Linked DNA regions of Homo sapiens. The protein of the gene in region 1 interacts with the protein of each later gene in a pairwise test. Each region holds a gene or a part of one and is shown on either strand. Other genes may lie near its edges. The genes, in order: ASCL4, GTF2B, DR1 and RNF11.

Evidence for each region.
Region 2: the proteins of ASCL4 (region 1) and GTF2B interact in binary tests that used the Homo sapiens proteins (3 or more experiments, as listed by UniProt).
Region 3: the proteins of ASCL4 (region 1) and DR1 interact in binary tests that used the Homo sapiens proteins (3 or more experiments, as listed by UniProt).
Region 4: the proteins of ASCL4 (region 1) and RNF11 interact in binary tests that used the Homo sapiens proteins (3 or more experiments, as listed by UniProt).

What each region holds. Positions count from the first base shown.
Region 1 is NC_000012.12:107,770,704-107,777,173, reverse strand, and holds ASCL4 (achaete-scute homolog 4), read right to left. Parts: upstream 2,471-6,470; 5' UTR 1,956-2,470; coding exon 1,437-1,955; 3' UTR 530-1,436; downstream 1-529. UniProt on the Homo sapiens protein: Could be a transcriptional regulator involved in skin development.
Region 2 is NC_000001.11:88,853,568-88,860,598, reverse strand, and holds part of GTF2B (transcription initiation factor IIB), read left to right. Parts: intron 1-312; coding exon 313-459; intron 460-587; coding exon 588-717; intron 718-1,811; exon of another isoform or gene 1,812-1,918; intron 1,919-3,111; coding exon 3,112-3,393; intron 3,394-7,031. UniProt on the Homo sapiens protein: General transcription factor that plays a role in transcription initiation by RNA polymerase II (Pol II). Involved in the pre-initiation complex (PIC) formation and Pol II recruitment at promoter DNA.
Region 3 is NC_000001.11:93,362,877-93,369,907, reverse strand, and holds the end of DR1 (protein Dr1), read right to left. Parts: 3' UTR 415-7,031; downstream 1-414. UniProt on the Homo sapiens protein: The association of the DR1/DRAP1 heterodimer with TBP results in a functional repression of both activated and basal transcription of class II genes.
Region 4 is NC_000001.11:51,267,242-51,273,947, forward strand, and holds the end of RNF11 (RING finger protein 11), read left to right. Parts: intron 1-2,714; coding exon 2,715-2,884; intron 2,885-3,909; coding exon 3,910-4,081; 3' UTR 4,082-6,206; downstream 6,207-6,706. UniProt on the Homo sapiens protein: Essential component of a ubiquitin-editing protein complex, comprising also TNFAIP3, ITCH and TAX1BP1, that ensures the transient nature of inflammatory signaling pathways. Promotes the association of TNFAIP3 to RIPK1 after TNF stimulation.

The DNA.
Region 1 (6,470 bases):
TGTCATACCCACCCCACAAATTTATGACAATTAAATAGGACAAAATGTAAAAAGCCACAACAAAATTCCTAGCACATAAAAGATGTCCACTGAAGATATAGCCTGCCTTAGTTGCTACAACTGTAAAAGGGGGTAATAAAATCTAAGTGAAATCTACCTGGAGGATGCACTTCCACTGTTAGTTCTCTTTGTCCATTTCCATTTCCCCTCCTTCTTCCCCCACAAACCAAAGCTGCCTCCATGGAAAGGATAATTCGGCATATTAGAAAACAATCTTAGGGAAGTTGATCTTCATACATCAGCAGGCATTTAACTTATCTACTGAACTCAAAATTGTTTCTTAGAAAAAAAATGACCCAAATTCAATATTTTAAAAAGGCTTTTAACATGGCCAAAGTCACTACATCATTTCCATATACTGTACCTGGAAGCCCTAATGGTGATAAAAATATTTGAGAATGTACCAACTTCAATCCATCCGTCTTGTCCCATATCTTTCCCCCATCTGGCTCAACCCGCAAAAAGGACTTCCAAGTAGATTTCTTTTTTATTTTTAAAGTCACAGTGCCACTTCAGTTTATCCAAAACTTAGATGGAGAGCTACACGTTGGGGGGCGGGGGGTATGCAGAGAAAAGGAAAATGAAGAAAACAGTGGACAAAACAATTGAGAGGAAAAACAAGTTTTCATACAAATCTGGGCTCTCTTCCAAAGAGATCATTAATTCTAAGATATTTTACTATCTGCTCAATGCTACAAAGCTTCCACGTGGCCACTGGATGAAACAGTGTGTACCAAGCCACGGATTCCCTGGCACCATCATTCACACAGTCAACAACAGCACATGCTGGCAAATTCGTTCTCAAGTACCAGCTTACAGTCTCCTTCACCCAAAGCAGGAGGTCAACAATTACTTTCCATTACATTTTGAATACAATTCCCGAAGGAAGGAATGCAAGAAAATGTTCCTCTCATTTTTAAGGACTGTTTTTGGCTGTTTGGGGTTGTTTCTGTTTTGGTGGCGGTAAAGTTCTTCTTTGGTTAAGGTTTAATGTTTATGTATACCATTTACCCACACCACGGAAGGTGGGAAATTCCAGTTGTTCTCGCCCTTTGAGTTTTTAGAATAATCGTATTTACAATGAGGTGCTCAGAATCTGAAACAGTTTGCATTTTAGAAGTATAGGAAAAGAGTCTCCTTAATAAGCACCTATAAGTTGCAGGCACGTAACCAATAAGGGCAGGGGAGAAATTCCCAAATGTCAAAACAACTCCCCCATCCCCCAAACCCCAGCACCCATTTCTTTTTCTTAAGATTTAGGCCTGGAGAAGATGCCAGATTAAGAATGCAAACCACCTTCGAAGAGGACCTTAGGTTGAGCGCCCGGCTGCGCGCTGTGCGGCGGGCGCGGGGGTCCTGGCCAGTTCGGGCGCTCGCTAGCTGCCCCCCTCCTCGGGCTCGCTGCTGGGCGAAGGCGCCGAAGAGGCCTTGGACTCCCCGTCGCTGTTGCATTCCGCCCTGCGCTGGGGGACGGCGCCGGCCGCGCCCTCGAGCCCCCAGGCCTGGCGCTCCAGCAGCTCCTGCAGGTGCTTGATGTAGTCGATGGCAGCGCGGAGCGTCTCCACTTTGCTGAGGCGCTTGTCTGCCAGCTCCCGGGGCAGGTGGTCTCGGAGGCGCGCATAGCCCTCGTTCACGCAGCGCACCCGCTGCCGCTCGCGCTCGTTGCGCTTGCGGAGGAAGGCGGGCTCGAAGGCGCTGTCCAGCGGCACGGGCAAGTACTGCCATCCCCGTGCGCAGCCGCTGCGCGCCCACTCCCAGCACGCGGCGTCCAGACGCAGGGCGACCCTGAGGGGGTCCCTCCGCGGGAGTCCGGGCAGGGTCCCCGGAACGCCCAGGGGCGCGGTGCGCAGCGAGTATGGCAAGGCCAGCCGTTCCGCCGGTTTACGCGTCTCCATCATTTGCCGGAAAGCACACAAATCACTCAAGAGGTCAATCTCTCAATAGAAGAAGACGAAACAGAATCTTAGAAGCAGAGGTGCTGGTGCAGACTGCCTGGCTCAGTGGGTCTGTCTTTGCAGAAGTTTCTGGGTCCAGAAGTTAGGTTCCTGGACAGGCTTCAGGGAAACGGTGCATGATTCCTGAAGTTCATTGCACTCCTCGATCTTTTTATGATTTAGGCAGAGGTGGTAGGCAAAGACGTAGGATCTCCTAATCCACACTTCAAACCCCGTCTTCCCCACTGATCTTCTTTCAGAAGATAACAAAGGGGGTTCCTCTGCCTGGTCCCCCAGCCTGGAAAGGTGAGCTCACACCAGAGTCATCTTCCAAAGCCACCAAAAGCTTTTCAATGCCTGTAATCCACCACTCTAGGTCTTCAAGAGATGAGTCGTTCGCCAAGAGCCTAGCAATCTTCAGGATTTGAGAAGAGCTCCTCCCAGGAACCTGCAGATCTGGCGGCGGAGGGAAAGTGGACCAGAGGCTTTCTCCTTGAAAATCACTTGACTGTCCTTTGTGGTTTCCCGCGACCAGGTCTAATGGAAGGAGCTTTTAGAGTGTTTGCAAACTTAAACTTGCTCTTTCATTTCTGGGGTCTTAGCCTCATCAAAGGAAAAACTGCTCTCTTGCGGTTATAAAATGTGTCAAGTCAAGGAAGACCCGGGGCGAGGCTTGAGGTTTTTCTTCTTCCAAACCGAATCTTTTAAAAACTCAATGAGGCATGTTTGAAGGGTATAGGAAAAATACAGACTGTAGCAAAGAATATAAGGGTCTGCATATTATGTTCCAACATATGTTGTTTTATGGTTGTTGAGGGTGTTTTATGGAGATGCGACTTTTTAAAAGCACATCAAAAGACTGAACAATAACAAACGCGCTTAGCCGGTTATTTCTCACAGTGCTTACTGTAAACACAGCTTAAATACTGCTTCCCAGCCTCCTCTTCTAATCTCACCCAGGATATAAGGACATCATCTTTCCATAGCGCAAAGAGTGTTTTTCCATTGGATTCTTCTTCTTTAAAAAATGTCATTTATTTTCTCTCTTGGGGGCAGGAAAGCAACATTTGAAAGGTGGAGACTCCAAGTTCCAAGGAGAAAGGATGATGTCTTTGAAGACTTGTCTTTTTAAGACACAACCCCTCCAAAATGAATAATTAATCCATCCGTGTTGGTAAACCTTTGAAGATTAAAGTGTCATTAAAAATCCAACTGTACTGGTTAACGTCAAAGAATATGTTATCACACTGAAAATCAGATTTCCTCTTCTGCAAACCAGTACATTAAAGGTGTCTTCTACTTTAAAAGTCCTACTTAAAAACAAGAGAAGCAAAAACCCCCTACATTTATGATGAGAGCTTTTGCCTATTCCTCAGCAGACAAGGTGCTGCCCTAACATGTTTTTCTTTTTAGTTTGGCAAGTCCTGTTCTTCCCTGTTTGTTCTAAATGATCCGCCTGAAGCAACTCAAAAAACAAGGCAAATAAAATAGAAATAATTATTCCTTTCGGGTATAAGTTAGTCACATTTTTAAAGGTGTAGCTTGGCTGGGTGCAGTGGCTCAAGGTTGTATTCCCAGCACTTTGGGAGGCCAAGGCGGGTGGATTGCTTGAGGCCAAGAGTTCAAGACCAACCTGGCCAACATAGCAAGACCCCCATCTTTTAAAAAGAAGAAAGAAAAATTAAAAGTTGTAGCTCCTGATGAGGTTTGTACTGGCAAATAGCCTAATATATCATCACAATTTCTCAGTAGAATTGAGAAAGCCCTTTCTATTAGGAGAAAAGTCCACCACTCAGGCAGGTAGGCTGTTATACCACAAGGTGCTTTTTGGCCATGTCAAAGATTTTAACTTTTAAGAGTGACAGGAAGATAATGAAATATTTTAAGCAGGGAGGTGACATTTGAAGATTTGTGTTTCAAAAAAGATAACTGTGTCTGCAGATTGAGGACTAGATTGGAAGAGAGCAAAAGGAAGAACAGTTGAGATGCCATTTCTCCTTCTCAGATTGGCAAAAGTTTAAAAGATTGCTAAGATTCAGGGGAGGCAAGGATTTGAGGAAAGGGTGGGAGCATAAATTGCTTCAAGAAACTATTAAAATTATTATTATTATTATTATTATTATTATTATTATTATTTTGAGACAGGTCTCACTGTCACCCAGGCTGGGGTGCAGTGATGCGATCTCGGCTCACTGCAACCTCCGCCTCCCAGGCTCAAGGGATCCTCCTATCTCAGCCTCCTGAGTAGCTAGGACTACAGGCTTGTGCCTCCACATCCCAGCTAAACAAACTGTTAAAATTAATAGTGCACATCACATCCTTTGATTCAGATATCTGTGCCGTTTTGTCCTACCAAAATAAATGTAGCAATACCTATTTATGTGTACAATAATCTTTATTGCAACATTTGTAGCAATTTAAAAAAACGAAGACTCCAGGCAAGGTGGCTTATGCCTGTAATCCCAGCACTTTGGGAGGCCAAAGTGGGTGGATCACTTGAGGTCAGGAGTTCGAGACCAGCCTAGCCAACGTGGCGAAACCCTGTCTCTACTAAAAATACAAAAAATTAGTCAGGCGTTGTAGCAGGTGCCTGTAATCCCAGCTACTTGGGAGGCTGAGACAGGAGAATCACTTGAATCCTGGAGGCGGAGGTTGTACTGAGCCAAGATCACGCCACTGCACTCCAGCCTGGGTGACAGAGCAAGACCCAGTCTCAAAAAAAAAAAAAAAAAGGCGAGGCTGGGCACAGTAGCTCACGCCTGTAATCTCAGCACTTTGGGAAGCCGAGGTGGGAGGATCATGAGGCCAGGAGTTCAAGACCTGCCTGACCAGCATGATGAAACCCCATCTCTACTAAAAATCAAAAAAATTAGCTGGGCATGGTGGCACATGCCTGTAGTCCCAGCTACTTGGGAGGCTGAGGCAGGAGAATTGCTTCAACCTGGCAGGCAGAGGTTGAAGTGAGCTGAGATAGCCTGGGCGACAGAGCGAGACTCTGTCTCAAAAAATAAATAAATAGATAAAGAAGAAGAAGAAAAAGGGAACAGCCTGAACAGCCTGAATGTCCATCAATAGGAAAAGAGTTAAAAATCTTAGAATATTATGCTATTATTAAAAATAATGAGTAAAATCTGTACGTAAGAACTTGCAGACATATCCACAATGTCTTAAGTGAAAAAAGCAAATTGCAGAGTAACATATGCAGCAGGAACATAAAAACAATTCTACATGATGTGTATGTCCTTTATATGTGTTTCTGTGAGCATGGAGAATGAAATAGAAAGACACATACTAAATGGTTTTTTGCATTGGTTGCCTAAAAAGAAAGGGTGGCATTGGGGAGGAAGGGGGGATGTTCATTTTTCTTTATAAATCTTTCTACTGTTTAACTTGTTAATACCAACACTATTACTTTCTTATTTTTATAACCCAGTGAAACTTAATAAGATAAAATGTGTAGAAAGTTCAAATGACACCCCCTGATCTGGCCCAAACCAACAGATTTACCATTAGAAATTAGAACTCTTAGACCAGGTTTTCTGGCTCCTTGTAAATTCTGTCTCTGAGGACGAAGTATCTACAAGACTTTCTCTCTCTCTCTCTCTCTCTCACTGCTAATACCACAATCAAAATTGGTCAAGGCCGGGCGCGGTGGCTCATGCCTGTAATCCTAGTACTTTGGGAGGCCAAGGCAGGAGGATCACCTGAGGTCAGGAGTTCAAGACCAGCCTGACCAACATGGAGAAACCCCGTTTCTACTAAAAATACAAAATTAGCTGGGCGTGGTGGTACATGCCTGTAATCCCAGCTACTTGGGAGGCTGAGGCAGGAGGAGAATCACTTGAACCCAGGAGGCGGAGGTTGTGGTGAGCTGAGATCATGCCATTGCACTCCAGCCTGGGCGACAAGAGCAAAACTCCGTCAAAAAAAAAAAAAAAAAAAAACTGGTCAAATCCTGATCCTACAGTGGTCTTTTTATAGGATCCAAGTAATATAATGACCTAACTGCATGGTCACAAAGAATGCTGACAGAGCCTTTCCTAAAGAACAAAAGCATTGAAAATAAGTGGCTTTTCCAGTAGGAATAGGACTGTTTTACTCACATGATGTGCAGGGTATGGGGTGGGGGTTACCTTCTTTACATAAGAGATCAAAAGAAGAAGTTTTGACTCCTGATTACTCTCCAGTCAGTTTTGACCCAGATAAACATTCTCTCCAACCTAAAGCTGTCCTAAGGCTGGCTAGATCACGTAACACATATGCTAACCTGCCAAGAGTAACTGGGCTGGGTTTGTGTAGTCCTATTTGGGTCTGCTCATGAAAGGGGGCAGATGGGCAGGTATATTTTAATCCTTTCCTTCTAGCTTTTGTCTTTTCTCCCCTGTTTAAGGCTACCTTCTCCTACCGCAAGTTTTACAAGGCCTCCTCTTGTCTATATAACACCTTGGTGTGAATTATGAAGAGGCACCAAACTCA
Region 2 (7,031 bases), on another chromosome or scaffold:
ATGCTGTTGGATTCTGTTTTCTAGTATTTAATATTTTTTATCATATTTCTAAGTGAAATTAGACTGTTTCTTTTTCCATTGTTTTGTCAGGTGTTTGTATCATATTTCTATTTATACACTTTAAGCTTCCTATTTTCTATGTTCTTGAACAGTTGTTAGAATTACATGTTCATTTAGTATAGATGAGCAGGATGCACAATTCAGATTTCTGGTCTATGTAGAATCAGATCTTGTAAGCTATATTTTCATAGAAATTGTCCATTTTTCATGCTTTCCAAAAAATTTTTTCATAGTTATAAAACTGTTTTATAGGGCACAGGAGCTGCAAGTTTTGACGAATTTGGCAATTCTAAGTACCAGAATCGGAGAACAATGAGCAGTTCTGATCGGGCAATGATGAATGCATTCAAAGAAATCACTACCATGGCAGACAGAATCAATCTACCTCGAAATATAGTTGTAAGTTCTTGTCTACCTCCTTTAAGCCATTCTGGCATTGACTTTGCATAATTTAATGAACACATGAAATTTTGATATTGCAGCTAATTAAATGACGTAGAGTTAAACTTAGTTTCTCTGCTTTGAAGGATCGAACAAATAATTTATTCAAGCAAGTATATGAACAGAAGAGCCTGAAGGGAAGAGCTAATGATGCTATAGCTTCTGCTTGTCTCTATATTGCCTGTAGACAAGAAGGGGTTCCTAGGACATTTAAAGGTAAGTTTTTAGCTTTGTTTTTTTGTGTTTGTTTGTTTGTTTGTTTGAGATAGGGTCTCACTTTGTCGCCCAGGCCAGAGTGCAGTGGCGCAATCTTGACTCACTGCAACCTCTGCCTCCCAGGTTCAAGCTATACTCCTGCCTCAGCCTCCTGAGTAGCTGGGATTACAGGCATGTGCCACCACACCTGGTTAACTTTTGTATTTTTAGTAGAGACAGGGTTTCGCCATGTTGGCCAGGCTGGTCTCAAACTTCTGACCTCAGGTGATCTGCCCACTTTGGCCTCCCAAAGTGCTAGAATTAACAGGCGTGAGGCACTGTGCCCATCCTAAAATAACATTTTCTACATCATATTAAAGAAACAGACCAATGTCAGGCAGCTTTGACACTTAGAAGCTAAGTCATCTTTATTGTGACTACAGTAATCCACTTGAGCATCATTTGCCAATGCCTACTTATTTCATTCCTTGACAGCAAATTCATAGCATGTTCTTTTAGGCTGTTTTCCCATGTAGACTCATTTTAGTCCACGTAAGCCCACTATGTTCTTTTCTAGTGAGATCTTTTGATGGACTGTTGCTTTGTGGGCTTTCAGAAGGCCTATAATCGTAAACCAAAGTAGGCCGTTTATACATTTGGTTTACATGGAAACAGTTTCCATTTCTAGCACTGGTCTCTGTAGATGAGGGAGTCAAGCTTTAGAAAGTATCAGTGAAGGCCAGGTATGGTGTCTCACACCTGTAATCCCAGAACTTTGGGAGGCCGAGGTGGTTGGGTCATGAGGCCAGGAGTTCAAGACCAGCCTGGCCAATATGGTGAAACCCCGTCTCTACTAAAAATACAAAAATTAGCCAGGCGTGGTGGTGCGCGCCTGTAGTCCCAGCTACTCAGGAGGCTGAGGCAGAAGAATCGCTTGAAACCGGGAGGCAGAGGTTGCAGTGAGCCGAGATCACGCCACTACACTCCAGCCTGGGCGACAGAGTGAGACTTCATCTCAAAAAAAAAAAAAAAAAAGTTATCAGTTAAGTTTTTTCTCTTGAGGTGTATTGTTTGCACTTTTACACTTCAGTTAAGAACTGGTATTTTTCATTTAGTTTGCAGTTACATGTGAATATGTGATAATTTGTTCAGTGTTGCTCACTGACTTCCACTACCAAAGCTCAGTTTAGCTGAAGACTATACTTAACCCTTTATTCATCCAGTGAGTATTTATTTTTTATGTTTTCTTACGTAAAAGTGAAGAGGTGATGGCCTTTATCATCATCTTTTTTGTTGTTTTTATAACTAAAACAACTTTTGTTAAATTTCTTCTGAAAGTGTGTGGTGGTTGCATCTGGGAATAGCAGGGTCAGATATTTTATCTCATTGAGCTACAGCCCATAATCGCAGGGATTTCATGCACACATGACATTGTGTTGCCTAAGAGGCATCCTTTAGCTTGAGTATTTTCTTTCAATTCCTTGGTAACACTGCTTACAACAGATTAATACATAAACATCAAAGAATTTTTCATTTAAAGAAATTTAGTTGTATGAATTAATCCTTAGAGCAGTTAATATTTTGAAAGATTAAGACCTAAATTTAGCCAGGCACGATGGCTCACACCGGTAATCTCAGCACTTTGTGAGGCCGAGGCAGGTAGATCACGAGGTCAGGAGTTCAAGACCAGCCTGGCCAAGATGGTGAAACCCCATCTCTACTAAAAATACAAAAAATTAGCCGGGTGTGGTGGCAGGCGCCTGTAATCCCAACTACTCGGGTGGCAGGAGAATCGCTTGAACCCAGGGGGCAGAGGTTGCAGTGAGCCAAGATGGTGTCACTGCACTCCAGTCTGGACGACAGAGTGAAATTTCATCTCAAAAAACAAAAAAACTCTAAATTGAAAGAGTGAAGAACATTAGGCCAGGCGCAGTGGCTCATGCCTGTAATCTCAGCACTTTGGGAGGCCGAGGTAGGAGGATCACCTGAGGTCAGGAGTTCTAGACAGGCCTGGCCAACATGGTGAAACCCCATCTCTACTAAAAATACAAAAGTTAGCCAGGTGTGGTGGTGCACGCCTGTAGTCCCAGCTACTCGGGAGGCTGAGGCAGGAGAATCACTTGAGCCTAGGAGGTGGAGGTTGCAGTGAGCTGAGATCATGCCACTACCCTTAGTCTGGGCGACAGAGTGAGACTTCATCTCAAAAAAAAAGGTGTGATGAACATTAAAGTTAACTGAGAAATTTGCAGTTAACTCTGTGGGAAGTATCACTGAGATGATTAGGGTTTCATCTTTAAGGTATGATTGAATGTTTTACAATTAGAATGTATATTATGTTTATAATTAGAAATGGTAGATTTTAAGATGAACTATATGGCTTAAGTGAATTGATTTATTTAATTTTTTTTCTTTTAGAAATATGTGCCGTATCACGAATTTCTAAGAAAGAAATTGGTCGGTGTTTTAAACTTATTTTGAAAGCGCTAGAAACCAGTGTGGATTTGATTACAACTGGGGACTTCATGTCCAGGTTCTGTTCCAACCTTTGTCTTCCTAAACAAGTACAGATGGCAGCTACACATATAGCCCGTAAAGCTGTGGAACTGGACTTGGTTCCTGGGAGGAGCCCCATCTCTGTGGCAGCGGCAGCTATTTACATGGCCTCACAGGCATCAGCTGAAAAGAGGACCCAAAAAGGTAGGGTTCGTCATCAGGAAGTGTGGCAGTAAACTGAAATTTGCAGCATGTGATTGTTTTTCCATTTTAAGTCTGAACCGGGTAAATAGCAAGAAACCCACATTTGACCAGGCGCGGGGGCTCACACCTATAATCTCAGCACTTTGGAAGGCCGAGGCGGGAGGATCACCTAAGGTCAGGAGTTCGAGACCAGCCTGATCAACATGGTGAAACCCCATCTCTACTAAAAATACAAAAATTAGCTGGGTGTGGTGGTGGGGCTTGTAATCCCAGCTATTCAGGAGGCTGAGGCAGGAGAATTGCTTGAACCTGGGAGGTGGAGGTTACAGCAAGCTGAGATTGTGCCATTGCACTCCAGCCTGGGCAACAGAGCAAGACTCCATCTCAAAAAAAAAAAAAAACCCACGTTTAAGACATCATTCCTCAACGTCAAAATGTTAAGAAAATATGTTTTGCTTTTTAAGCAGCTCATAAAAAAAATGTTCAGAGACATAACCCTGTGAACAAACCTAATTTTTTTCCCATTTGAATTATTTTAGTTTGTACATCTTTTATTCTTACAAGTTCTTTTTTCTCCCTGAATATATTCCTCCTGATCATTTTGAATACTCTTTTCCTTTCCAAACTTACCTTTTTAAATCTTAGGGGTCAGGGAGGCCATGCTTTGTTTCTCACTGCTTGGCATGGGATTCTACAGATAGACACACTGTAAAATACGTGTTGGCCATCAGCCTTTAACATTCTGTGAAGGTTGGTTTTTTCCCATTTTGCACAGTATTTTACAGTTTCTTAATACAAATTCTGAAATAAGTAGATGTAAGTAATTCAGCCTTCTAAAGCTATGTTTAAATTTAGTGTTGTAGGAAAACTTTCACCAGAAGTATTAAGTGAATTTCTTTTCCTTTTTTTTTTTTGTTTTTTTTTTTTTTTTTTGTTTTTGAAACAGTCTCCCTCTGTTGCGCAGGCTGGAGGTACAGTGGCACAATCTCAGCTTACTGCAACCTCCACCTCCCGGACAAGCTATTCTCATGCCTCAGCTTCCTGAGTAACTGGGACTACAGCCACGTGCCACCACGCCCAGCTAATATTTGTATTTTTAGTAGAGATGGGGTTTCACCATGTTGGGCAGGCTTGTCTCGAACTCCTGGCCTCATGTGATTCGCCTGCCTCCACCTCCCAGTGTGCTGGGATTATAGGCACAAGCCACCACACATGGCCCACTAACTCCCTTTTAAAGTTAGAAGTGACTACTCCTTTCTAAGTCTTTGAGGATTACAGAAGTTATTCATGAACAAATGCATGTAAAGAAATTCATAAACTAGGTGCGGTGACCAGCCTCCTGGCCAACATGGCAAAACCCTGTCTCTACTAAAAACACAAAAAAATTAGTCGGGTGTGGTGGCACATATCTGAATCCCATTTAGTAGGGAGGCTGAAGTAGGAGAATCACTTGAACCTAGGAGGCAGAGGTTGTAGTGAGCTGAGATCATGCCACTGCCCTCCAGCCTGGGTTGATGGAGTGAGGCTCTTTTTCAAAAAAAAGAAAAGTTGGTGGCAGGTCGCGGTGGCTCACCTGTGTAATCCCAGCACTTTGGGAGGCCAAGGTGAGTGGATTGCTTGAGGCCAGCAGTTCAAGACCAGCCTGGCCAACATGGCAAAACCCCATCTCTACTAAAAATACAAAAATCAGCCCAGCATGGTGGTGCACACCTGTAGTCCCAGCTACTCGGGAGGCTAAGAGACAAGAATCTCTTGAACTTGGGAGGCAGAGGTTGCGGTGAGCCTAGATTGCACCACTGTACTCCAGTCTGGGAGACAGGACTGTCTCAAAAAAAAAAAAAAAAAACAAAAACAGAAAGTGAATTACTGGCCTCAATAACTTTGTAATACTTTATTCACAACAGCCTTCAGCTTAGGCTATATGTTGAAAAAAGTAATAAATGATAGGAATAATTAGAGAAAGAAAGCCAATCATTAGTTATTTGAAGGAGCCATTATCCATTCCCTTTGGCCTTCACTCACGTTTTAAGGAAATTTTGAGTCTTTTAGTAAAATTGAGAAGTTGCAGCTAGGCAGTTTGTCCTTGAGGTACATTCCTAGTTGTAAAGTTTATTCTAATGAACAACATGAAAACATTAATCTTGTTGCTTTCTGCTTTTTGGCTTTATATGTAAAGTCTTCTTCAAATGTAAGGTCTTTCTCTTCCCTGCACAGCAGGCAGTTGACATTCAAATAGTTGGCATTTATTGGTATTTAGATGTAGAATAATGTAATGCAGTGTGAGATACGGAAATTTAAAATTAGCTAATTGTACAATGATGGCAGGCATTCACAGTGAAAATCACTAAAACCTCACTGATTTGAATCAACTGAAAAGGTAGTAAAATGAATTTGTATTAAAAGGTGTTTAGGCCAGGCGTGGTGGCTCATGACTGTAATCCCAGCATTTTGGGAGGCTGAGGCAGGTGGATCACCTTAGGTGAGGAGTTTGAGACCAGCCTGGGCAGCATGGTGAAACCCTGCCTCTGCTAAAAATACAAAAATTAGCTGGGCATGGTGGCAGGTGCCTCAGCTACTCAGGAGGCTGAGGCAGGAGAATTGCTTGAACCGGGGAGGCAGAGGTTGTAGTGAGCCGAGATCTTGCCATTGCACTCCAGCCTGGGTGACAGAGCAAGATTCCATCTCTAAATAAATAAATAAATGATGCTTAAAAATCCATTTTAATAAAGCATTCATAATACTTAACCAAACATTGTAGTGGCAGTCCTTTAGTATTTCTTTTAATGACTTTGAAAGGAAAAAAGGGACAGCGACTTTAAAGGGTAAAAGTGGATCTGTTAGGATTCTGTACAATGTTCGTTTGAGCTCAAAATATTTAAGTATGTGCTTGTATCAGTGAAAAACATCTCCGTATGCTATAATAAGTAGCTGTTTGATCTCTGATGTATTAAGTAGAAAAAAAGATTGTAGAACAATATTTATAGTATCACATTTTGTTTTTAATAAGGACCCCTTAACAGAAGTTAGCTAGGGGAGATTTTGCATGGGAGCTTTCAAACACAGAAATATAAAGTGAATTTCTTTACAAGAACATATTTGTGGAGTACTTTTGTGATCCTCAGAAAGATTTATAAAGAAAAAGGAGGAGTCAGTTGTAAATACAATACCCAGTATAAGATGATAACACTCCTAATACTAAGACCTGAACACTATTCATATATTTTATGTTAGTTAAACCCTTTAAAACATTGACAACCCTGTAAGGTAGTAAGTACTAGTAATCATTTTTATTGTTGCTTGTTACTGACTTTAGCTCCCACTTTTTTTTTGAGACAGTATTTGGTTAAGTATTATGAATGCTTTATTAAAATGGATTTTTAAACATCATTTATTAATTTATTTAGAGATGGAATCTTGCTCTCTCGCCAGGCTGGAGTGCAGTGGTGCGATCTCGGCTCACTGCAACCTCCTCCTCCTGGGTTCAAGCGATTCTCCTGCCTCAGCCTCCTGAGTAGCTGGGACTACAGGCGCATGCCACCACGCCTGGCTAATTTTTTGTATTTTTAGTAGAGATGGGGTTTCACCATGTTGGCCAGGATGGTCTCGATCTCCTGACCTGGTGATCCACCCGCCTCGGC
Region 3 (7,031 bases), on another chromosome or scaffold:
GATCCTTAATTTCAAATTAAGAACATGATCTTCAATTTCATTTATAGTAGTTATGGCTCATTTAAATCCTAAATAATGAGCCATAGCTACTAATTTATTTATTTTGCCACGTCCATTGCTAAAGTAGCTACTAGATGTTATTTCCTATTTGCACAACAGTAGGTTTGTTACTGGGATATGGAAAACAGGGAACTTGCAATTTAGAAAAACGCAATTTGGCCTTGTTTTTATTTTATTTTTACTCACCACTATACTAAAGGTGATGGGCTTGTTTTAAAGAGAAAGTGTACTCCAAAAGATTCCAAAATTCTGCAACATTTGGATAAGGATGAAACTAAAACCTGACACCAGGTCACTTTTTCTATAAGCTTTCTTTAGTATTTTGACCAAAAGAAAAGACATATGTAAAGCCTATACCACAAATCAACTTTATAAAATAACTTCTCATATTCTGCATAACACTGAGTGAATCATTTAGACAACAGTGGACAGAAAAAGGGAGCTGAAAATAGTAACAGACATTACCTCTGCTTCCTTAGAATGAGTTCTACAATTACCTTGCAAAAGCACACAATTTTGCTATCCTCAGGCAGGCTTATAATTTTTTTAAAAGATCTTCAAATAAAGGTCATTTATTTTAGTATTTGTTCCAGTATTTCCAGAGTATTTTTGGGGAAAAAAGTTCTAGTGGAAGAAAAATAGTTTTCATAATTACTTACATTGGGGTTCAAATCCTTCACTTGTTAGATGTTATTATATTACAGTCATCCCTTGGTATCCGCCAGGGATTGGTTCCAGGATACCCCAAGGATACCAAAATCCAAAATCCAAGGATGCTAATCATCTCTAGATTATAATATCTAACATAATGTAAATGATATATAAATATTGTTATATTATTTTTAAAATTTATACTATTTCATTGTTGGGTTATTTTTTGTTTTTTCCCCAAATGTTTTCAATCCATCAGTCCATGGTTGGTCGATCTATAGATGTGGAACCCCCAGACACAGAGGGCCAACAGTACTTAATTTCTTGGAATCTTAGTTTCCTCACTTACAACATGTTTATAATAAAGACAGACGAAATTTTGTAAGGGCTACTAGTATATGTGTAAGGCAACTGCACATGAAAACCTAACACTATTTGGCTTAGAAAACATACTCTATCCTATGTAATATACCAAATAAGTGTTTTGGAAATAAATACCATTGTTCTTCATAGCTTAACCACACTACTACACCCTACTACATGGATTCTAGAAGTTTATTAGTGACATAAATATGAAGTTAATGGCATCTTTTATAGGCACAACAAAAGAAACAAACGTATTAGAAGGTATTTGCATAATCAGACCATTTTGAGCCTGGTATGTTTTCCCCAGTAATTGGAGCATCCTTAGATGCCTTAACAACAAGGACAGTTTCTCCATCCTTTGCTGCATACATACTTTCTAATACTATCTCTCTCCTTCCACTCCCAATTCCTAATAAAAATCTCTGATTCACATTAAAAACTTATTCTGGCAAGTCTCCCTCTTCCACCTCTACTGCTTTCTATGTTAGTGACAAGTGCTATTCATATAAAATATACAAAGGCAAGAAACATAAAGTTAAAAGGAAACAGTATGTACTATTCTTCATACTCAATACATCATACATAAAATACGGAGTTTCATAAGTAAAACAAAATACTGCATACTGTATGTCTATTATTTTTAATGGTGTGCCTGTGTTACCAGTCTATGACTGGACTATCAATACTTACCCTCACAGAGGAAATAAACAAATGAAATAACATATGTAAAAAAACTATTACAAAAAGAGTTGATCCTCATTGTTCATATCACATACAGCAGGTCCTCAACTAATGTAATTTCTTTTTTTGTTTGTTTTTTTGAGACGAAGTCTTGCTCTGTTGTCAGGCTGGAGTGCAGTGTCGCGATCTCAACTCACTGCAACCTCCGCCTTCTGGGTTCAAGAAATCCCCTGCCTCAGCCTCCCAAGTAGCTGGGACTACAGGTGCACACCACCAAGCCTGGCTAATTTTTTGTATTTTAGCACAGATGAGGTTTCACTATGTTGGCCGGGATGGTCTCTATCTCCTGACCTCGTGATCCACCCGCCTCGGCCTCCCAAAGTGCTGGGATTACAGGCGTAAGCCACCACACCCGGCCTGTAATTTCATTATAACATTGATGAAAAACAATTATTTACAACCAGGGCCACTGTCTGTGTGAATTTTGCATGTCCTCCACATATCTGCATGAGTTTTCTCTGGGTATTCTGGTTTCTTCTCAATTCCCAAAGATGCACGTTAGGTGAATTGGTACAGCTAAATGGTCCCAGTATGCGTGTGTGTGCCGTGTGAGTGCGCCCTGTGATGAAAAGGCATCCTGTCCAGGGTTGGCTCCCACTTTGCTCCCTGAGCTGCTGGGATAGGCTCCAGCTACCCAAGACACTGAACTGAAATAAGCAGGTTGAAAAACGAATGAATACAAATTACTGTAAAACGAAAATTTGTAAAGTATATAATAATCATACAAATGCACAATAAATGATGCAGTATGAAAGCACTCAGCAAGCCCACTTTATTTCTTATTTTTTGTTTTTGAACTGCATGGTGGTAGGAGGTGCTCCTTAAAATTTTCACTTCCCAACAGTTATTCCTTGATTTAACCCACTAGCACTACAACTGCTGTCACTCACTGATTCGCCAAATATTGGGTAAATAATTTTTACTTTTTTTTTTTTTTTTTGAGACAGGGTCTCATTCTGTCACCCAGGCTGGAATGCAGTGGTACCATCACGGCTCACCGCAGCACCGACTGTGGGATTGTTTAATGCAGGGTTTATCAATAACAACCCCATAAACATTTGGGGCTGGATAATATATATATTTTTTTTGAGATAGGATTTTGCTCTGTTGCCCAGACTGGAGTGCAGTAGCGTGATCATGGCTCACTGCAGCCTCGACCTCCCAGGCTCAAGGGATCCTCCCACATCAGGCTCCCGAGTAGCTGGGACTACAGGTGCAAGCCACCACCTCTGGCTAATTTTTGAATTTTTCTGTAGAGACGGGTTTCACCATATTACCCAGGCTGGTTCCGAACTCCTGAGGTCAAGCCATCTGCCCACCTCGACTTCCCAGTGTTGAGATTACAGGCGTAAGCCACCATGTCCAGCCAATTCTTACTTGTTTTTATCCTTTTTAAATGTATATAAAGCTCATATTAATCTCAATGTTTAATTTTAGAAGTGTTTTGGGTCTTTATTAGAAATTTGGTAGTGTTTTTGTAACCAGAAATATATGCCATAGGGACTTAACTCTTATTTATATCAGTTCACCTATGGTAAAATTGATTTCATTATATGTTGTTTTTCTTAAACTCGCAGTTTCCCAGAACCTATCAACAACATTGAGGACTTATTGTATTATAAATTATCTTTATATGAATATAAAGACTTTCCCTATTTCAATTGCGAATATACAGATCTGTGCACTCAAAAATAACAAGCCTATTAGGACTCAAACAGTTATTTGTATACCCACGTTCACAGAAGCATTATTCACAATAGCCAAAAAGCAGAAGCAACCCAGTGTCCATTAATGGATGAACTGATAAACAAAATACGGTATTTACATACTACGGCATATTTGGCCTTTAAGAGGAAAGAAATTCTAATACATGCTACAACATGAATGAACTTTGAAGACATTATGGTAAATGAAATAAGAATGAATCCATTTAGATATCCAGAGTAGTCAATTCATAGAGACTGAATGCTGGTTACCAGAGGCTGAGGAGAGAGGAGGTAATGGGTGGTTATTGTTTAATGAATACATAATTTCAGTTTGGGAAGATGAAGAGTTCTGTAGACGGATGGTGGTGGTGGTTGCACAATAGTATGAATATACTTAATGCCACAGAATTGAACACTTAAAACTGGTTAAAGTGGTGAATTTTACGATATGCATATTTAATCACAATAAAAAATGCTTATTAAAAGATGTACTAGTTATGAAATAGCATACCTCATCTGTTTCAAACTGGGTGTGGCTAACAATGAGGTAGAAAAGCAGCAAGCAGGTACAGAGATTTATAATGGCTGCTCTAGGTCCTATCGGGTAAAGGGATCAGCAGATGTGAAGTCAAGAGTCTCCTGTAAGATTTGACTTTCTTGGAAACATATTTTAATCCTGGGCCTCCTCTTTCCAAATCACCTATTTCTTTTAGTCTTTTTGCAGTGATACTGTGTGTTGCTTCTAACAGAGGTTCAGTTTCACAGCCTTTCCCTCAAGTGTCTTATCCTAAAAGTAAAACCTAGATGATCTAAGGTGGTGGTTTTCAACAGGGTGCAATTTTGCCTCCTATACTCGCAACACCCAGGGACAGTTGGCTATGTCTGGAGACATTTTTGGGTTGTCACAACTGGAAGTAGGGTGGGGAGTGGTGCTAATGACATCAAGTGGGCATAAGCCAATTATGCTGCTAGAAATCCTACAATGCACAGGATAGGCTCCCACAAACAAAGACTTAACCAACCCCAAATACTAACAATGCTTGGTTTGAGAAACCCTGTTCTAAGGTTTTTCTAAGTTGCTTGATTTATGGTAGAAACTGATCATAAGTTAAAAGTTTCCTCCTTTTGGATTGCTTGAGCCCAGGAGTTTGAGGCTATGGTGCATTATGATTATGCCTGTGAATAGTCACTGTAATCTAGCCACTGCAATCTATATTAAGAAACATAGGCCGGGCGCAGTGGCTCACGCCTGTAATCCCAGCACTTTGGGAGGCCAAGGCGGGTGGATCACGAGGTCAGGAGATCGAGACCATCCTGGCTAACACGGTGAAACCCTGTCTCTACTAAAAAAAAACAAAAAAAATTAGCTGGGCGTGCTAGCGGGCACCTGTAGTCCCAGCTACTCAGGAGGCTGAGGCAGGAGAATGGCGTGAACCCGGGAGGCGGAGCTTGCAGTGAGCCGAGATCGCGCCACTGCATTCCAGCCTGGGTGACAGAGCAAGACTCTGTCTCAAAAAAAAAAAAAAAAAAAAGAAAGAAAAGAAAAGAAAAAAGAAAAAGGAAACATAGTGAGACCCTGTTTCTTTAAAAAAAAAAAAAAAGTTTCTTCCTCTTATTCCTTACTTTCTCTTCTCATTTATTTTGAGGAAATAGGATAAGAACCAGTGGTAATACTTTAGGTGAAAGGAGGCTACTTATGTTATCATTCTCTTCACCCTGGCCGATCCTAACCATGACACTTTATATCCTGGGGGATGGTGAAAAACAGAGGAGGTGGGGTAGGACTTGTGGTCAAATTGTTGGGGACAGAGGCAAAAAAGAAAACAGCAACAAAAAAATACAAATGAAGAAATTGGAAGGCAGTGCCTATGCCATCTGAATTGGATAATTCTTCCTAATGGCCATTTGGATATAGATGAGTTGGACAGACATAATTTAGAAACCTATATAAGGAAATATCATGCATTTTAATGAGGTTATAACCCAAAATTTAAAATTCAATTAAAAAATTAAATCACAGATTTTCCCACAACATACTAATTCAACATACTACTTACGATTACTTAAAATTTGCATTTTTTCTAAGGAGCAATAACCTAATGAGTATGTAATACTAATGTGTCAGTTAATAAGGGCAATTACTTTTGCTCTTATTTTCCTGTTATATGAAATTAACAACATACCTGCTGCAATATAACTCATTTGGTACAATTTAGGTGTTTCGAGAAATTCAACCCACTAAGATCATTAGCGTAATTCATTTTTATGCTACACATTAAAATGGTGCCTTCTTACAGTCACTTTGGAAAACTGTTTGACAGTAAATACTAAAACTGAAAATATACACACCCTACAACCTGGCAATTCCATTCTTAGGTTTATACTCAATGGAAATGTATACACTCACCAAAAGACATGTATAAGAATGTTCTACACAGTACTATTCATAATAGCTCAGAATTGAAAAATTCTCAAAAGACTATTAATGGGAGAATGAATAACTTTTGGATGTAATGAAAAATGGATAAACAAACGGAAGACTATACAGCAATGAGAATGAATGAACTACAAATACATGCAACAATAAGAATGGATCTCACTTTGGCAGGTTGAATAACGGCCTCCAAAGATAGCCAGCGTATGAATCCCTGGAACCTGTGAATGTCACTTATATGGCAAAAGAGATTCTGCAGATGTGATTAAATTAAGGATCTTGAGATAGGGGGATTATCCCTGCTTTATGCAGGTGAGCCCTAAACTTAGAGGCAGGGAAAGATCTGACTACAGAAGAGAAGATGATATAATGACAAAAGCAAGCTTTGATCATAGAGAGGAAGGGGTCACAAGCCCATAAATACAGGCCGTCACTGGAAGCCAAAAAAGGGAAGAAAACATTCTCCCTCACAACCTCAATAAAGAGCCAACCCTGCTGATACTTTGATTTAGGCCTAATGAAACTGATTTTTGGACTTCTGATCTCCAGGACTATAAAAGAATAAATCTGTGTTGTTTTAAGTCACTAAGTTTGTGGTAGTTTGTTACAGTGGCAACAAGAAACTAAAATATTCACAAAAATGATGAATGAAAAAAAGTGTATTATGTATGATTACATTTACATAAAATAAAAAACAGGCAAAACTAATCTATGATTTTAGAAGTCAGGATAGTAACTTTCAGCAAGAAAGAAGACAGTGTTAAGATGGGGAAAGAGGAGGGCTTCTGGGGTACACATAATGCTCTGTGTTTTGATCTGAAGACTAGTATGTGAGTTTGTTTAATTTGTGAAAACCTTTATTTGTGTACTGTTTTGTGTGTGTGTGGTATATGCAGTTTTAAAAACTGATGCCTTTTAAACACTTACTAATCTGATAATCTGCCGAAAAAGAATATATAACATATATTCAAGGGGATGGAAAAATACTTACTGAACAATAATTTTATTTCTCAAGAACGCTGAAGATTTTGTTTCTCTCTTCAAAAGATTTAAAAAATTTTAACTGGCAAAAC
Region 4 (6,706 bases), on another chromosome or scaffold:
TCAAAATATTTATTTATTTTTCATTTGTTTTCAGCTGGGGACGAAACACAGTAGCTTTGCAAATATAAAGTGGGAGCACAACCTAGCACTGGCGTTGGAGGTCCTCAAAACAGTCCCCAGGTTTGGTGATTCAATAGGAGGGCTCTTAGGACTTAGTATATAATCTTACTCACATCTATGATTTGTTACAGCAAAGAATCAAAGCAAAATCAGCTAAGGGGAAAGGTGCTTTGGTCTAAAGGGAACTAAGCACAAGCTTCCAAGAGTTATCTCCTAGTGGAGTCACACAGGACATGCTTAATTCCTTCAACATATATGAAAGGTTTTCTGCCAGAGAAGCTCATTTGGAGACTCAGTGCCCCAGGTACTGATTAGGCACCCACTGCCTAGCATATGACAAAATTCCTGATTCTCAGAGGGGAAGCAGGTGTTGAACATAAACCATATAGTGTTCGCAGATAGGGAATGGTGGGAACCACCCCCAAATCCATATCTTTTTTTGTTGTTAAGATGGAGTCTCTCTCTGTTGCCCAGGCTAGAGTACAGTGGCAAGATCTTGGCTCACTGCAACCTCTGCCTCCCGGGTTAAAGCAGTTCTCTTGCCTCAGCTTACTGAGTAGCTGGGATTACAGGCGTGCACCACCACGCCCAGCTAATTTTAGTATTTTTAGTAGAGATGGTGTTTTACCATGTTGGCCAGGCTGGTCTCGAACTCCTGACCTCAGGTGATACGCCTGCCTCGGCCTTTCAAAGTTCTGGGATTACACGCATGAGCTACCATGCCCAGCCATCACATCTTTTAAAATTGTTGTTTTTATACCCCTGTCTAATCTTCTACTCACTCAGTGTCTGTTAGCCAACAATTGAATCAGGATTCCATTTTGCTGCCTAGAAAATCAGTGGCTGTCTAGTTATGAAACAATTGATAACTCAGATATCAAGCCATTTTAAAACAAGTATCATGGGAATTAAAATTTAAAATTAGGCATGTGTGGTAAGAAGGGTGAGGCCACATTCATCTTTAAAATATCAGGAGGTCTTAGTCATTTCCTTTCCTCTATGGTTTTCTGAACCATGTAAACTGAAATTAGATTGTTCAATCATTTTAAATATCTAAAAGATATAGAGAGGGTTCCTTTGTTTTAACAAAAAAATACCAAAGGAGAAAATACACTCATAACGTGAATTAAAATATAGTTTTTATTTTCTTCTTTAATGTTTATTAATGTTTCCCCGTAAAGTAGAACTTTCCTTTTCTGTTCTGCTTTCTGTGTTCTCTACACGTATGTGAACCACAAGACTGAAGAAATCTAGCCTCTGAAAAACCCATAGTTGGAGTTTATTTTCTCTAAAACAATTTAGTTATTTTTGTTTGTTAGGTTCAAGGATTTAAGAGACCCTTTATATTATCTTAGTCTTAAACCAATTTGTTCCCAGTTTGCGTGTGGATGACAGCTCATCAAAACTGGTCAACTAGGACTGAGGCTAAGATTCAGGAAGGTAATTTAGACTGGAAATGGTAATTCAAGGGTTGAAGAACTCAGAGCTGGCAGAGATCACAACAGAGTCCAAGAGTTTGTAGTATTCAAAGAGAAGCCAGAAAGCCAGGACCAAAGCCAAGGACAGTAGCACTTAGCTTAAAGTCTGCAAAGCAGAGAATCATGATGGGGAGAATCATGACGTTGGGGAGATGTTAGAATAATTTACAAATATTGGCATTTACAAAGCTCTTAGTTATCTCATGATTATATCAACTCTTTAAAGTGGGTACTGTTATCTGCTTTATTCAAAGACATTAAGAGACTTGGTCCAAGCAATCACAGTAAGTAGCCGAGCTGAGACTGAAATCTTATAATTTAATTCTTCAGACTGAAAATCTCATCTTCTGAGATAGTAGTGTTTTTCAGACTGCTCTGTTGATTCTGAGGATTCTGCAAAGGTAACCAAGGTGAGGGCTTGGGGATGGGGAGCCTCATCCCTTCTAGGCCACACTCCATCCCAGCTTCATTCCATCAGAGTTGCTCAGTTTTAAATATTATTATAGGCCAGGCACCATGGCTCAACCCTGTGGCCCCACTACTCAGGAGGCTGAGGTTGGAGGATTGCTTGAGCCCAGGGGGTTGAGTTTACAGTAAGTTGTGTTTGTGCCACTGCACTTAAGCCTGGGCAACAGAGGGAGACCCTATCTCAAAAAAAGGTGGGGGTTATACACACGATTCCTTTGAATTGTTTTGTTGTGTAAAAAATCAGTTGGATTAGGAGCAGCAGAATTCTAATTTCAGTATTGTCAATTAGTGACTGTAGGCAAGCTTGGTCCTATGAAATGGGAAAGTTAGTCTTAGATAACTTTTAGATTTATTTTTGCCATAGTCCAGTCCATTTAAAAAGTTTTAAAAATTATTTTTAGAGATGAGGTCTTGCTATGTTGTCCAGGCTGGTCTCTTATCATGTGGAAATAGTTCATTTAACATTCCATGCCAGTTCAGTGAAGTCTGTGTTTATATCCTTTAGGCAGAATGAGAATGTTTTGGTGTGTGTATGTTTTATTCTAGTAGCTGAAGTTAAGGCAGGGTGAAACACAGTCATACAGCCAAACACTAGCCCAGCTTCCTACCCCTCCCAGGGCTCCCTTTCCCTTCTATCTCTGACCAAAAAATAAGCCCTCGAAAGGTTTTTAAAAAATAATCTTTTTCCTCTATATTTTAATATTTTAGGAACAAGTTCCAGTTCCAGTCTACCACCCAACACCTAGCCAGACTCGGCTAGCAACTCAGCTGACTGAAGAGGAACAAATTAGGATAGCTCAAAGAATAGGTCTTATACAACATCTGCCTAAAGGAGTTTATGACCCTGGAAGAGATGGATCAGAAAAAAAGATCCGGGAGTAAGTTTTAATTAATTTGTACATTTCAAAGTTTTATTTTCAGATTGCTTTTGAAAAATTTGCCTTTTCTCCTGCACTTTAGAAAGTCAGACATTTAATATATTGAAACACTTCGCTTAATGCAAGAGAATGTTTAATTTTTTTTCATAGCTCTATTACTGGCTACTAGCAAGAGAATGTTATGTAGTAATTAAGAATTTTCACAGGCCGAGCACAGTGGCTTATGCCTGTAATCCCAGCACTTTGGGAGGCTGAGGTCGGGGGATCACTTGAGGCCAGGAGTTCGAGACCAACCTGGCCAACATGGTGAAACCTCATCTCTACTGAAAATACGAAAATTAGCCAGGCATGGTGGCACGCGCCTGTAATCCCAACCACTTGGGAGGCTGAGGTGGGAGAATCACTTGAAACTCTGTCTCAAAAAGTAAAATAAAGTAAAATAAGAGAAAGTTAGTGTTAATGAAGAGAGCTTTAACTTACAGCAACCCAGTAAGTAGGCTGAAGTTAGTGTTTCTGTTTTTACAGTTATTAAAATGAAAATTATCTTACTCTAGGATTACTCTAAATAGCACAAGGAAACAAAGTTGCCCGAAGTTAGTGTTTCTGTTTTACAGTTACTAAAATGAAAATTGTCTTAGTCCAGGATTACACTAAATAGTGCAAGAAAACAAAGTTGATCTAACTGATGCTTTTCTACCTAAAATAATCCCATTCTCCTTCAGGTATCTGCTATAATATGTAGCTGTTTACAAGCACAGCAGTAGATTTGATGCATATGTAATCCATTTCTCTTTGCTCTGTTGATTGCTCCTAAGTCCTGCAAATTCTCAGGGGATTGAAATAAGAGACTGTGGACAGATCAACATTAGGAAAAAATTCAGTTTGCATGCTTTGGCAATAAGATGACAGGCAAAGCATTCTGATGTGTTACTCAGATTAACACTGTCTTTAATGGGATTTAAAGAGTTTTCTGAATAGGACACTTCTGAAAATGCCTTCTGATTTCTCTCCATTGCTCTCAACAGGTGTGTGATCTGTATGATGGACTTTGTTTATGGGGACCCAATTCGATTTCTGCCGTGCATGCACATCTATCACCTGGACTGTATAGATGACTGGTTGATGAGATCCTTCACGTGCCCCTCCTGCATGGAGCCAGTTGATGCAGCACTGCTTTCATCCTATGAGACTAATTGAGCCAGGGTCTCTTATCTGACTTCAAGTGAACCACCATTTTGGTGGTTTTGATCTTTTGTCACTGAGCCCAAAGAGCCAGGGATTAGGAATTAAGATCGTGCACAAAAGTTTCCTTAAAATTCCTGGATGGCTGCAGATGTTGGGGGAAAAAGTACGTGATATTTTAGAAACTTAGTGGGAAAAGTAGGATGGTATTTTTATGTAAAGCCTTGACCCAATGTTTAAAAATATAATTGTATTTAGATCTTGTTATTGCTCCAGTACATAGGAATTGTGTAAAGTGTTAACAGCAGCTGTATTTGTTTAAATTGTGTGTATTGAAGATTAGGAAAAAGATAGTAGTTATTTTTCCTAAATGAAATAACTTTCTTCTCTTCCCCTTCCCCACCCGAATTCTTTTCTGAAGTTGCTGGCATTTGGGTCAAGGTTTTATTAAAAGCTACATTTTATAACACTGGCACACACAAAAAAGTAGTTTTAAGCTTGTTTGCACAGTTCTTTTTTTCCATTGGAAATGGAATTCATTGCCTTAGGTCTTTTTAAATAGTGTATTATTATCGTTGGGGCTGGCTCTATGCTTGAAAACCAGTTTATTTATAACCTGTTATAAGTGCTATATTCTGTTTGCAGTTAGGAAATGCAGAATTCAAAGTGATCTCCTAGCTTGTAAGCAAACTGAGATGCACTATCCCTTTTCTATAAAAAATAAGTTAATGTGTCAAGAAACCAACTCTATTAAGGTGGGGTTTAATATTACCCTTTCCTATGTGTTTTATCTAATTATTTTGGTTGTTAATATGGTGATAATGGAAAGTCAAGTTAAATTTTAAATATTAAGAATTCTGATTTATTGAGATTGAATTATGCCACCACGTTTATGTAAAAATGAAGGTGGCACCGTGGTGAGACCTAATGAGAAATAGTTACTCAGTTGTAAAAATTTTGATTTATTCTCTTTCTTCTGACCTCCTTGCCTCTTGTCTTGAACCATAGCAAAAGGATACTGCATCTCTCATTACTGTAGTGCTGAGGTTATTGAAGTTATACAAAACACATCTCAGTCTCTGTTTCTTGGAAAGGTATCTATTACATCCTGCTAGCTGACTGACAAAACTAAGCAGGGAGAATAAAGATAATTGTATTTTATGTTTTGCACACAAACGCAGAATTTGTATAACCATATGACTTCATAGTTGTGATCTCAAAAAAGAAGGAATTTCTCCTTTGTTTCTTGCAGTTAATGTAAGAATACTTTAAATCTCTAAGCTTCTGAAGTGTTAGAGGTAGAGATGGTCTAGTAAAGATGTAGTAGTAATGTTTTATCCATTTAGCATGTGTTTATTTTTTCATATGTACTCAAAGGTGACTTATTGGTTCACCTCAGTGATATTACAGCTAAAAAAATCATTCATTAGCAAAAGGAAAAGTGGTCTCAACCTAACATCAGAAGTGTTTCTTATTATTATTTTATATTGAGTTGAATATTGAACTCTAACAGTTTTCTACATACAAAACACAGTGTCATGAAGGTTATTCATAATTGCATTATAGAGGAATGTAGTATGTCATAAGTACTTTGTAAAGATTTGACATTCAACTGTAGTATCCATATGTTGCTTAAATTTCCTTATGAGCCCCATGATGGAAAGACTTAAAGATGAATTTGAGAAAAATTGAAAGAAATTAGATTATCAGGTTCTGTTAAATTGTTACATGTATCTTGCTTAAATTTCTGTTTATTAATTTATATCCACCCAAGTACATAAAGCAAATTTGGAGGAAACAACTGAAGTTGTGCAATATTTTCTGATAATTGCTTTTTTTATTCTTGTGTTTTCTACTTAAACATAATGTCTGTGTCATCAAGTATTATAGTCAGACTTTTCTTTTTTTCTAGATTGTTAAAATTGGCAAATGAACTTTTTTAAAAATCATCTTCCATGTTGCAGTTAGTCTTTCTTTTCATTACAAGTCTTTCACAGAAGTTTGGTGGTAATATTGAAAGAACTAGCATTGGGCAGAATGTGTCTTTTTTAGGCACTTTATATTCTCAACATACAATGTTAAGAACCATCAATTTTGACTTTTACTAAGTTGTTAAATAAAGTTATAATACAGCTGTGAAGGGCTAAAGTTAGAGTTGATTACATAAGTAAGTATTCCCCATATAATCTTTTAAAAAGTTGTGTATGATTATTTTAAAATCTCTCTCTCTATATATACCTGTGGGAAGTATTTTTTATTGTTTGGCATTTAATATCATTTAATCATATACTTAGGCTTGATAGCACCAAAGTTTCTAAAACCAAACAATAGCTATAATCTCTTGATTTAGATATGGGCAAGATATGTCCAAGCTTGGCTGTGGGATTTGAAATTTCTAAAAAGCCTAACCAGGAAGAAACAAAAGAATCTTATCCTTTTGAGTGTAAAACCTAACAAGTTGAAATACTTTCAGATATTTGTAGTTTACCTAACACAAACTTAAAAAATTCTGTGAGTTTCTTGATAGGGAATCTCCTCAGTCGGTACTAGAAGACTCGCCCCCTGCTATTGGTGTTTATCATGTGATATAAAACAGTATGATTTCATGCAATAGTAAGCATTGAGATAACAGATCCCCTG